Linked DNA regions of Homo sapiens. The protein of the gene in region 1 purifies or fractionates together with the protein of each later gene. This does not show direct contact. Each region holds a gene or a part of one and is shown in the gene's direction. Other genes may lie near its edges.

Region 1 (3,660 bases):
ATGTGCTTCCTTGATAACAGTTTTGGTGTTTTATGTCTCCAGAATATAGAGGTTGATGGACTATCTTATAAACTGGAAGGCCTGAAAAAATTCACCGAATATAGTCTTCGATTCTTAGCTTATAATCGCTATGGTCCGGGCGTCTCTACTGATGATATAACAGTGGTTACACTTTCTGACGGTAAGTTAAAAACAGTGAAACTCCTTTTACATATTTGACATAATATTGACAATAATGACATGATATTGCACATATATCATATATTCCATTTTCAAGGCTTCCTGACTAAAATTTTATGGACTATTACAGTTAAATGTAAACTTTCTATCAAGATACATACTCCCAGCTGGATGTGGTAGTTCACACAGGTAATCCTAGCACTTTAAGAGACTGAGGCAGGAGGATGAGTTAAGCCTAGGAGTTCAAGACCCACCTGAACAACATAGTGAGACCCTATCTCTGTAAATGTTTTTTTTTTTTTTTTTTAATTAACTGGATATGGTGGCATGCACCTGCGATCCCAGCTACTTGGGAGGCTCATTCTGGAGGATCACTTGAGCCTGGGAGTTCAAGACTGCAGTAAGCTGTGATCGTTCTACTGCACTCCAGCCTGGGCAACAGAGTAAGACCCTTTCTCCAAATTAAATAAATATATATGTATATATGTATATACATATGTATATACTCTTGAGTCAGTATATACTAATAGGTAATCCTCAAAATGTGACTATTGACTAAGAGCTAAAACTTTGTGTATTTTTTATTTCTTTACATTTTCTAATACACATTTGTGCATGTGTGGATTAATTTTGATTGGCATGTTTTATTCCCCCATCTAAAAGTGTGCAGATGATTAAAGGTGTAAATGATAGACAATCCCCCTATATTTACCTCTTAATTAGAAAATATATCAAAAGGAATTAGGCCAAATAAGCTGATATTAAAATTTAAAGTATTAAAATTGAGCATGAAAAATGTGTATGTTGCCTACTAAATGGAAGAATAGACACAAACACACACATTTGAGACAAGAAGTGCAGTGACTCAATTGTGCTTCACTACACCCTTTATTCCTGGGCTCAAGGGCTTTTCTTTTCTTTTCCTTTTTTGGAAACGGAGTCTCGCTCTGTCACCCAGGTTGGCATGCAGTGGTGCAGTCTCAGCTCACTGCAACCTCCACCTCTCGGGTTTAAGTGATTCTCCTGCCCCCAGCCTCCTGAGTACCTGGGATTACAGGTGCATGCCACCACCCCTGGCTAGTTTTTGTATTTTTAGTAGAGACAGAGTTTCACCATGCTGAGCAGGCTGGTCTGGAACTCCTGACCTCAAGTGATCCACCCGCCTTGGCCTCACATAGTGCTGGGATTACAAGCGTGAGCCACTGCACCCAGCCTCAAGGGATTTTCCTGCCGAAGCCTCCCGAGTAGCTGGAACTACAGGCATAGGCCACAGCACCCAGCTAATATTTTTATTTTTTGCAGAGGCAGGGTCTCACTTTGTTGCCCAGGCTAGACCTGTTTTTGAATGCCATAAAAGAGAGGAACAAATCTTAATAAAGAGAATAAATTTGACAAAATAATGGCCAGGGGAAACTAGAAACCTAACTGCTAGATGATCATGAAAGGTTGGGAAATTTTATAAAAAGTGAAAATAAAATACATCAAAGTATATGATGTGGGGCCAACGAAAACTCAGGCAGGTGCAGAAATGTAGCGATAGGCCCTTGTGAATATTAAAAAAGGCCACAAGCTAGCTCTTTTCAGCAACAATTTCCATTTGGTGTGTTTAATTCTATAAATTATTTATCTTTTTAATTAAAAAATGACTTTAGCTTGTGATTTCTTGACAGATCTATCATTGTTTATTCTGGGAAAGTACCTGGGTGTACATTTCACACAATATCAGTGAAATGAGGAAGGGCATGCATATTATTAAGGACAGTACAAAGAGAACACAGGAATAATGCTCATTTGCAAATTCAACTTTAAAATGTATTTTATACGTAATACCACTTTGGTATCATTTTTAATGTAATTCTTAGGCCCATCCATCCAATTCTGTTATTGAAGACAGAACAGAATATTTATTGGTAGAATAAATTACTTCACAACTTATAATTATAAAAATAAAAGAAAAACAAATGAAAGTGAATGTTTTACATAATTTATGTAGATTTCATTCACTCTGAACTGTAATACTGTGGCCTGATTCTCCACTTTGGTTTTAAATGTCATAAGTGAGAAAGATAGATTATTATTCATTAGTCCAAGAATTATCTTCTGGAAATGTTACAATGTTTAGGACTTAGACAGTGTCTGTCAGTATAAAAAAAGTATTTCGTGACCCTAACCCCAATAAACATCACTGTGCAAAGGACACCAAATTCTCTCTCTCAAATGCACTGAAAGGAGATAGCAAGGACTTTATAAGCTTCTTAGAGTGGACACCGTGACCTCGTTTGCATTCATTTTTACAATCAACCCATCTCTTTTAATGTCCAACACAAATGTGTGGCTCTTGGCTTTCATTTCCTTATTATCCAGTTCCTTTCTGTCTACTTCAATCTCATGTCTCCTCCTCTGTCCTGAAGCTGTTCATGCTGAGGTCATATATCACATTGAGTTGTATTTAATCACATTTAATAGTCACCTGCTTCCCAGTCTTCAGTCATGGAGCACTCTTCTTCGTTAACTTTATGTATGTTGTAACAGGTGGATGTTGTGAAAATTAAATGGGCTGATCTGTGTAAACATCTAACAAAGTGTATGACATTTAAGTGTTTAATAAACATTATCTCTACCAAAGTGCACTTCACTTTTTCTCATTATATTAATATTAAATACCCCTAAATATGAAGGATGCTGTTATATTCACCTCTGTTTTCTTCCTGAGTAAATATTTATCGAATTAATTAGACAGCTCAGTCAAAACTGTGCAAATTTCTGTATGCAAAGGCTTATCTTTAGGATTTCCCATTTGTGGAACTAATTTGATATATTAATTTAATATATGACTGTGTCTAAATGCATCTGTATTATAGTGAACATAATAATTCTTTTCATATCAGGAGTCTTACCATAAAAAATATATTGAGACATAGAAAAATTTTTAAAAAAGCAAAAGTTAAGTGTAAATACATTTCTTCCAATTTCATTACTTTATGTTTTTTTTTCCCTGTTCTACTGGGATGCTTGTAAAGATCTTTGTCCAGATGAGCTGTCATCTCTAATTTAGCTCGGCTTTATTTTCTGAGTAGAAACCTTATTTTTTATTCAAATTCCTCCACCTAGAAAACCACTGGTTTACAATGAGCCATTTTTTTTTCACACCACTGAGATTATACAGCATATGATCATCTAAATAATTTTGCCAATTTGTTCCAAAATACTGTCTCTTGCACTAGTTGGTAAGTCACTAAGAGCTTTTATGAACGAATGAACCATTGAAAGTTTCCATGCCAGCTTGTCCTGTGTCCAAATGCAGAAGGACCTGATTTCATAGGCAACATAAGAATGTGCTTATTATTTTTATGAATGTTATTAATATTTCTTGAATACTTACTAATGGAAGGCCCTGATCCAAGTACTTTGCCTTTACCTTTCATCCTCACGATACTACTAAAATTTTCCCTACTTTACAGATGACAAAACTAAGTCAGA
Region 2 (3,660 bases), on another chromosome or scaffold:
ACTACCTGAAACTGAGTAACTTATAAGAAAAGAGATTTAACTGATTCACAGTTCCACATGGCTGGGGAGGCCTCAGGAAACTTACAATCATGGAGGAAGGTGAAAGGGAAGCAAGGCATGTTTTATATGGCAGCAGGAGAGACAGCAAGCAGGGGGGATCTGTCAAACACTTTTAAGCCATCAGATCTCATGAGAACTCACTTACTATCATGAGAACAGCATGAGGGAAACTGCCCCCATGATCCAATCACCTCCTACCAGGTTCCTCCCTTGACATGTGGGGATTATAATTCAAGATGAGATTTGGGTGAGGACACAGAGCCAAATCATATTATTCTGTCCCTGGCCCCTTCCAAATCTCATGTTCTCACTTTCAAAACACAATCATGCCTTCTCAACAGTCCCTGAAAGTCTTAACTCATTCCAGCATTAACCCAAAAGTCCAAGTCCAAAGTCTCATCTGAAACAAGGGAAGTCCCTTCCGCCTATGAGCCTGTAAAATGAAAAGCAAGTCAGTTACTTCCTAGAAACAATGAGGATACAGGCATTGGGTAAATACTGTTATTTCAAATGGGAGAAATTGGCCAAAACAAAGGAGCTACAGGTCCCATACAAGTCCGAAACCTAGCAGGGTAGCCATTCAGTCTTAAAGCTCCAAAATAATCTCCTTTGCCTCCATGTCTTACATCCAGGGCACACTGATCCAAAAGGTAGGCTCCCAAGGTCTTGGGCAGCTCCACCCCTGTGGCTCTACAGGGTACAGCCTCTGCAGCTGCTTTCACTGGTTGGTATTGAGTGCCTGTGGCTTTTCCAGGCACATGGTACACCATTCTGGAATCTAGAAGATGGTGACCCCCCTTCTCACAGCTCCACTAGGCAGTGTCCCAGTGGGGACTCTGTGTGGGGGATCTAACCTGACATTTCCCTTCCACACTGCCCTAGCAGAGGTTCTCCATGAGGGCTCTGCCCCTGCAGCAGACTTCTGCTTGGACCTCCAGGCATTTCATACATCCTCTGAAATCTAGGCGGAGGCTCCCAAACCTCAACTCTTGCCTTCTGTGTACCTGCAGGCCCAACACCACATGGAAGCCACCAAGGATTAGGGCTTACACTCTCTGAAGCAACAGCCCAAGCTGTACCTTGACCCCTTTTAGCCACAGCTGGAGCTGGAGTGGCTGGGACACAGGGCACCAAGTCCCGAGGCTATACAGAGCAGCAGGGCTCTGGGCCTGGCCCATGAAACCATTTTTCCCTCCTAGGCCTCTGGACCTGTGTTGGGAGGGGATGCCATGAAGATATCTGGAATGCCCTGGAGACATTTTCCCCATTGTCTTGGCTATTAATATTCAGCTCCTTGTAACTTATGCAAATTTCTGCAGCTGGCTTGAATTTCTTCCCAGAAAATGGGTTTTTCTTTTCTACTACATGGTCAGGATGTACATTTTTCAAACTTCTATGCTATGCTTCCCTTTTAAACATGAGCTCCAGTTTCAGATCATCTCTTCATGAATGCATATGACTGTACACTTTCAAAAAAAGCCAGGTTACCTCTTGCACACTTTGCTGCTTAGAAATTTCTTATGCCAGGTAACCTAAATCATCTCTCTCAAGTTCATAGTTCCACAGATCTCTAGGGCAGGGCAAAATGCTGCCAGTCTCTTTGCTAAAGCACGGCAGGAGTGACCTTTGTTCCAGTTCCCAGTGAGTTCCTCATCTCCATCTGAAACCACCTCAGCCTGGACTTCACTGTCCATATCATTGTCAGCATTTTGTTCAAATCCATTCAACAAGTCTCTAGGAAGTTTCAAATTCTCCCTCATCTTTCTTTCTTCTGAGCCCTCTAAACTGTTGCAGTCTCTGCCTGTTACCCAGTTCCAAAGTTGTTTCCTTATTTTCAGGCATCTTTATAGCAGTGGCCCAAACTCCTGGTACCAATTTTCTGTATTAGTCCTTTTTCACACTGCTATAAAGAACTACCTGAGACTGGGTAATTTATAAAGAAAAGAAATTTAATTGAGTCACAGTTCCACATGGCTATGGAGGCCTCAGGAACCACGGCAGAAGGCGAAGGGGAAGCAAGGCACATCTTACATGGCAGCAGGAGATACAGCAAGTGAGGGGGGAACTGCTAAACACTTTGAAGAGAACTCACTCACTATCATGACAACAGCATTGCGGAGACTGACCCCATGATCCAATTGCGTCCCACCAGCTCCCTCCCTCGACATGTGGGGATTACAATTCAAGATGAGATTTGGGTGGGGACACAGAGCCAAACCATATCAAAGATTAAATAATTCATTCTCATTATTTTTGTTTTTCGTAGCTTAGTTTTATTTTTGAAAACTAATTGTATTTAATATAGCAATTTATCTTAATGTTTAATGTTTGTAAATGCATTGTTTTACTAGATGTTTTATATATTTGTACATCTGAAATGCTTTATATATTTCATTCCACAGTTTATGATTCTTAACTCTTAAAAAATAAAATAGCTCCATTACATACATCATTTTCAAAATATCAGTATTATTATTTGGCTTCTGTGTTTCAGTCACTAGTGGCACAGTACGAACATTTAACTCTTGAAATAGACAAGCTGTGCTTTAGGGAATTACTAAAAGAACAGAAATCAGAAAGATTTGTCTTGGAATGTTGTGGTTGTTTAAAAATTACACTTCAAGCTAGGTGCATTGGTGCACACCTATAGTCCCAGCTCCTTGGAAGGCTAAAGCAGAGGCTCACTTGACCCCAGGAGTTCGAGGCCAGCCTAGGCAATATAATGAGACGCCCATCTTTAAAAATATATATATTTTTTAAAAAGTTACACTTCTACCTCAACCTCCTTGCTCCCACTTCTCTACCAGCCACCTCACAAATATTTGAGGGTCTAAGAGGTTAGTTAAAAGTCTTTGTTGTAGCTCTGTAGGATTTCTTATTTTTGAGATTTCTAGACATATAAAAACTCAAATTTCCTGTGATAGATGGAGTTTCTGTGGAGAGCCATAGGCAGTTTTGGTAGATGGTGTATGTGGAGGAGAGCAATCCCAACGATATGCCTGGGTTATATCATAGTGGTTACAGGGGTTCAAGGACCATTGTCTTTGACTCCTTTTGTAGATATTAGTAGCTGGTATTCTGGATGGTAGCCTTTTATAAAACATGTTAGGATTCGAGGCATACTAATAGTGTACATGCTTTTATTAATAGAATAAATGAGTGGAGGTTGGTTGTTTACTCATTCCTGTAGTAAAAGAAGTTCAGTGGTATCAAAACCGTGCTTTTTTGCAGGTTGGGTTGACAACTGGGTTTTTTTTTTTCACTAATGTTATCCATACACTAGTGGATTTTGTTGTTGTTGTTGTTGTTGACTGAAGACCAAAAGTTTTCCACTTAATTTTGTTCATACTCAAATTAGAAAATGCATTGTTTGTAATAGCAAAAATAACTTTTATGCCCAGTAATGTGAAATTGGTTAAATCAGTAATAGTATGTCCATGCAGATATGTGGTAGTTAACTAAGGTAGGTTTACATTTTCTGCTTAGAAAGTATTTATAAGACATATTATTAAGTCAAAACAGCTCACTGTAAAGTACTTATAATATCTCTTTTTTTTTTTTTTTTTTTTTTGAGACAGAGTCTCGCTCTGTCGCCCAGGC
Region 3 (2,839 bases), on another chromosome or scaffold:
ACTTTGAAAGTGCTGTTTGGAAAAAAGTACTACTTTGAAAAGAGCTAATGTATGCTCATAATAATAATTCAGTGATTATTGGCAAATAGTATATGTGCATTTAAAGCATGTGTGTTTACTACGTATAATTTTCATTAAAATTTATATAACATATCTTGGTTTTTGTTCCATGTTTAAAACCCACATATGTAGGGTTTTATTAAACCTTTTTTTGTAAATTTTATTCTTTGCAAAAGTGGCTTTTTTTTTTTTTTTGAGACAGGGTCTCACTGTGTTATTCAGGCAAGAGTGCAGTGGTGCAGTCATGGCTCACTTCAGCCTCAACCTCCTGGGCTCAGGTGATACTCCTACCTCAGCCACCCAATTAGCTGCAACTACAGGTGTGTATGACCACACCTGGCTATTTTCTTGTATTTTTTGTAGAGAAGAGGTTTTGCCATGTTGCCCAGACTGGTCATGAACTCCTGGACTTGATCAAGCCACCTCAGCCTTTCAAAGTGCTGAGATTACAGGCGTGAGCCACCATGCTAAACCAGCTGACATTTTTTTTCTAAGATTTCTTTTTACCTCAATTATATTAGTAATATTTGACACCAGGCGCAGTGGCTCACACCTGTAATCGCAGCACTTTGGGAGGCTGAGGCAGGTGGATCACAAGGTCAGGAGATTGAGACCATCCTGGCCAACACGGTGAAACCCCGTCTCTACTAAAAATACAAAAAAAACAATTAGCTGGGCGTGGTGGCGGGCGCCTGTAGTTCCAGCTACTTGGGAGACTGAGGCAGGAGAATGGCATGAACCCGGGAGGCGGAGCTTGCAGTGAGCCAAGATTGGGCCACTGCGCTCCAGCCTGGGAGACAGAGCGAGACTGTCTCACAAAAAAAAAAAAAAAAAAAAAAATTTGACTTACAATTTTATGTTAAAATTAAGTGCTGGTCAGTCAGTGGTCAAAATGTTTGGTTTGCCCCTTTGTGATTTTTCAAATATTATTAATTTTTCTTTTTAAAATTAATTAATTTTTTGAGACAGAGTCACACTCTGTTGCCCAGGCTGGGGTGCAGTAGCGCGATGTCAGCTCACTGCAACCTCCACCTCTTGGGTTCAAGTGATTCTCTTGCCTCAGCCTCCTGAATAGCTGGGACCACAGGCCTGAACCACTGCAGTAGTTTTTGTAGAGACAGGGTTTCGCCATGTTGGCCAGGCTGGTGTCAAACTCCTAGCCTCAAGTCATCCACCTGCCTCAGCCTCCCAAAGTGCTGGGATTTCAGGCGTGATCCATTGCTCTCAGCCATGTAAATTTTTATGTGAACATAATTTATTTCTGGATCAAAAGGTATAGGGATTTTCTACATTTCATGCTATATGGGGTTCCATAAGAGAAAAGAGTTGATTTGTCATCATATTTTAATGTTTCTTCCAGCATCAAAACCTAATTTTGGAGGATTTACTTTTTTTTTTTTTAAATGAGTTAAATTAAGAATTTTTTTCCTACGGAAGTTTTGTATTTTTGTCAATATTAAATGTTTTTGAGTGTATATTAAGACTTCAGATTTTCAAACGAAGATTTTCTTTTTTAACCTTCCAATTTGCATGACTCAATGGTCTTGCTTTTTGACATTTTTAATAATTAAGTATAATTGAAAGGAATGCATTGCATTATAATGCAAATTTGATAATTAACACTTTAGTTACCATAAAATTACTTTTTAATACCTTATTTTAGGGGGAAGGTAGTAAATCTTCTGGAAGGTATAAAAAAAACCTATCCTAGTATCATGTTGGAGGATTTAACTCCATTAATATCTTTATTCCTTTATTTTTATTTGATTTTTGCTTATTTTTGAATTTTTACTATTTTTTTCCTAAAGATTCTTTTTTCTTTTTTTTTTTTTTTTTTGAGACGGAGTCTTGCTCTGTCACCCAGGCTGGAGTGCAGTGGCACAGTCTCACTCAAGCTCACTGCAAGCTCTGCCTCCCAGGTTCACGCCATTCTCCTGCCTCAGCCTCCCGAGTTGCTGGGACTACAGGCACCTGCCACCACACCCGGCTAATTTTTTGTATTTTTAGTAGAGGCGGGGTTTCACCATGTTAGCCAGGATGGTCTCGATCTCCTGACCTCGTGATCCGCCCGCCTCGGCCTCCCAAAGTGCTGGGATTACAGGCGTGAGCCACCGCGCCCAGCCAAAGATTCAAATTTTTAAGATGACCTATGAAGCTCTCTGTGATCTTCCTCTGAAACCTTGTCAGCTTTATCTCATGTTCACTTTACTTACAAGCCATAGCCACACAGCCTAATTTTTATTTCTCAGCTTTCAAATGTGCTCATTCTCTTAACATTATCCTTTTGACCTCGTGATATTTAAAGGGGAAGACTTCTCTAATGTTGTAGATGAGATTAGAATCTCCTTGTTATACAGTATCACAGCCCTTATGTTTACTCTTTGGCACTCATGACAAGTGCCATTTTATTCTTGCAATAGAGTCATGTCTTACTTGAAAATTAGGTTGTAAAGTTAGTATGTAAAGCAGAAATTACATTCTCCCTCGAAGTGTTTCATTCACTCCCTCGAAGTGTTTAATCTCCCTCAAAGTGTTTAGTTTTTGTTTGTGCAGTCTTATAACAGGTATGGTTAATATAATTTGTGTAGTAATATACAATATTTGCTAGGGTTCAGACGTGAAATGTAACATTTTAGATCAAAGAATGAAACATGTTTGTTTTACAGATTTCTGTTTTTAAGTATGCATGTGATACAGGTCTGTCATGTATTTGTGATTATTTGATTATGTTTTCTCTACTAGACTATAAATGCAGTCAGCTCAGGGACTGTCCTTACTT

Evidence for each region.
Region 2: the proteins of DCC (region 1) and EIF5A2 purify together in Homo sapiens (affinity purification with western blotting; one study listed by BioGRID and IntAct). This does not show direct contact.
Region 3: the proteins of DCC (region 1) and EIF4E purify together in Homo sapiens (affinity purification with western blotting; 2 studies listed by BioGRID, with this or other methods). This does not show direct contact.

Annotation. Positions count from the first base shown.
Region 1 is NC_000018.10:53,207,637-53,211,296, forward strand, and holds part of DCC (netrin receptor DCC), read left to right. Parts: intron 1-42; coding exon 43-181; intron 182-3,660. UniProt on the Homo sapiens protein: Receptor for netrin required for axon guidance. Mediates axon attraction of neuronal growth cones in the developing nervous system upon ligand binding. Its association with UNC5 proteins may trigger signaling for axon repulsion.
Region 2 is NC_000003.12:170,894,997-170,898,656, reverse strand, and holds part of EIF5A2 (eukaryotic translation initiation factor 5A-2), read left to right. Parts: intron 1-3,660. UniProt on the Homo sapiens protein: Translation factor that promotes translation elongation and termination, particularly upon ribosome stalling at specific amino acid sequence contexts.
Region 3 is NC_000004.12:98,881,455-98,884,293, reverse strand, and holds part of EIF4E (eukaryotic translation initiation factor 4E), read left to right. Parts: intron 1-2,839. UniProt on the Homo sapiens protein: Acts in the cytoplasm to initiate and regulate protein synthesis and is required in the nucleus for export of a subset of mRNAs from the nucleus to the cytoplasm which promotes processes such as RNA capping, processing and splicing.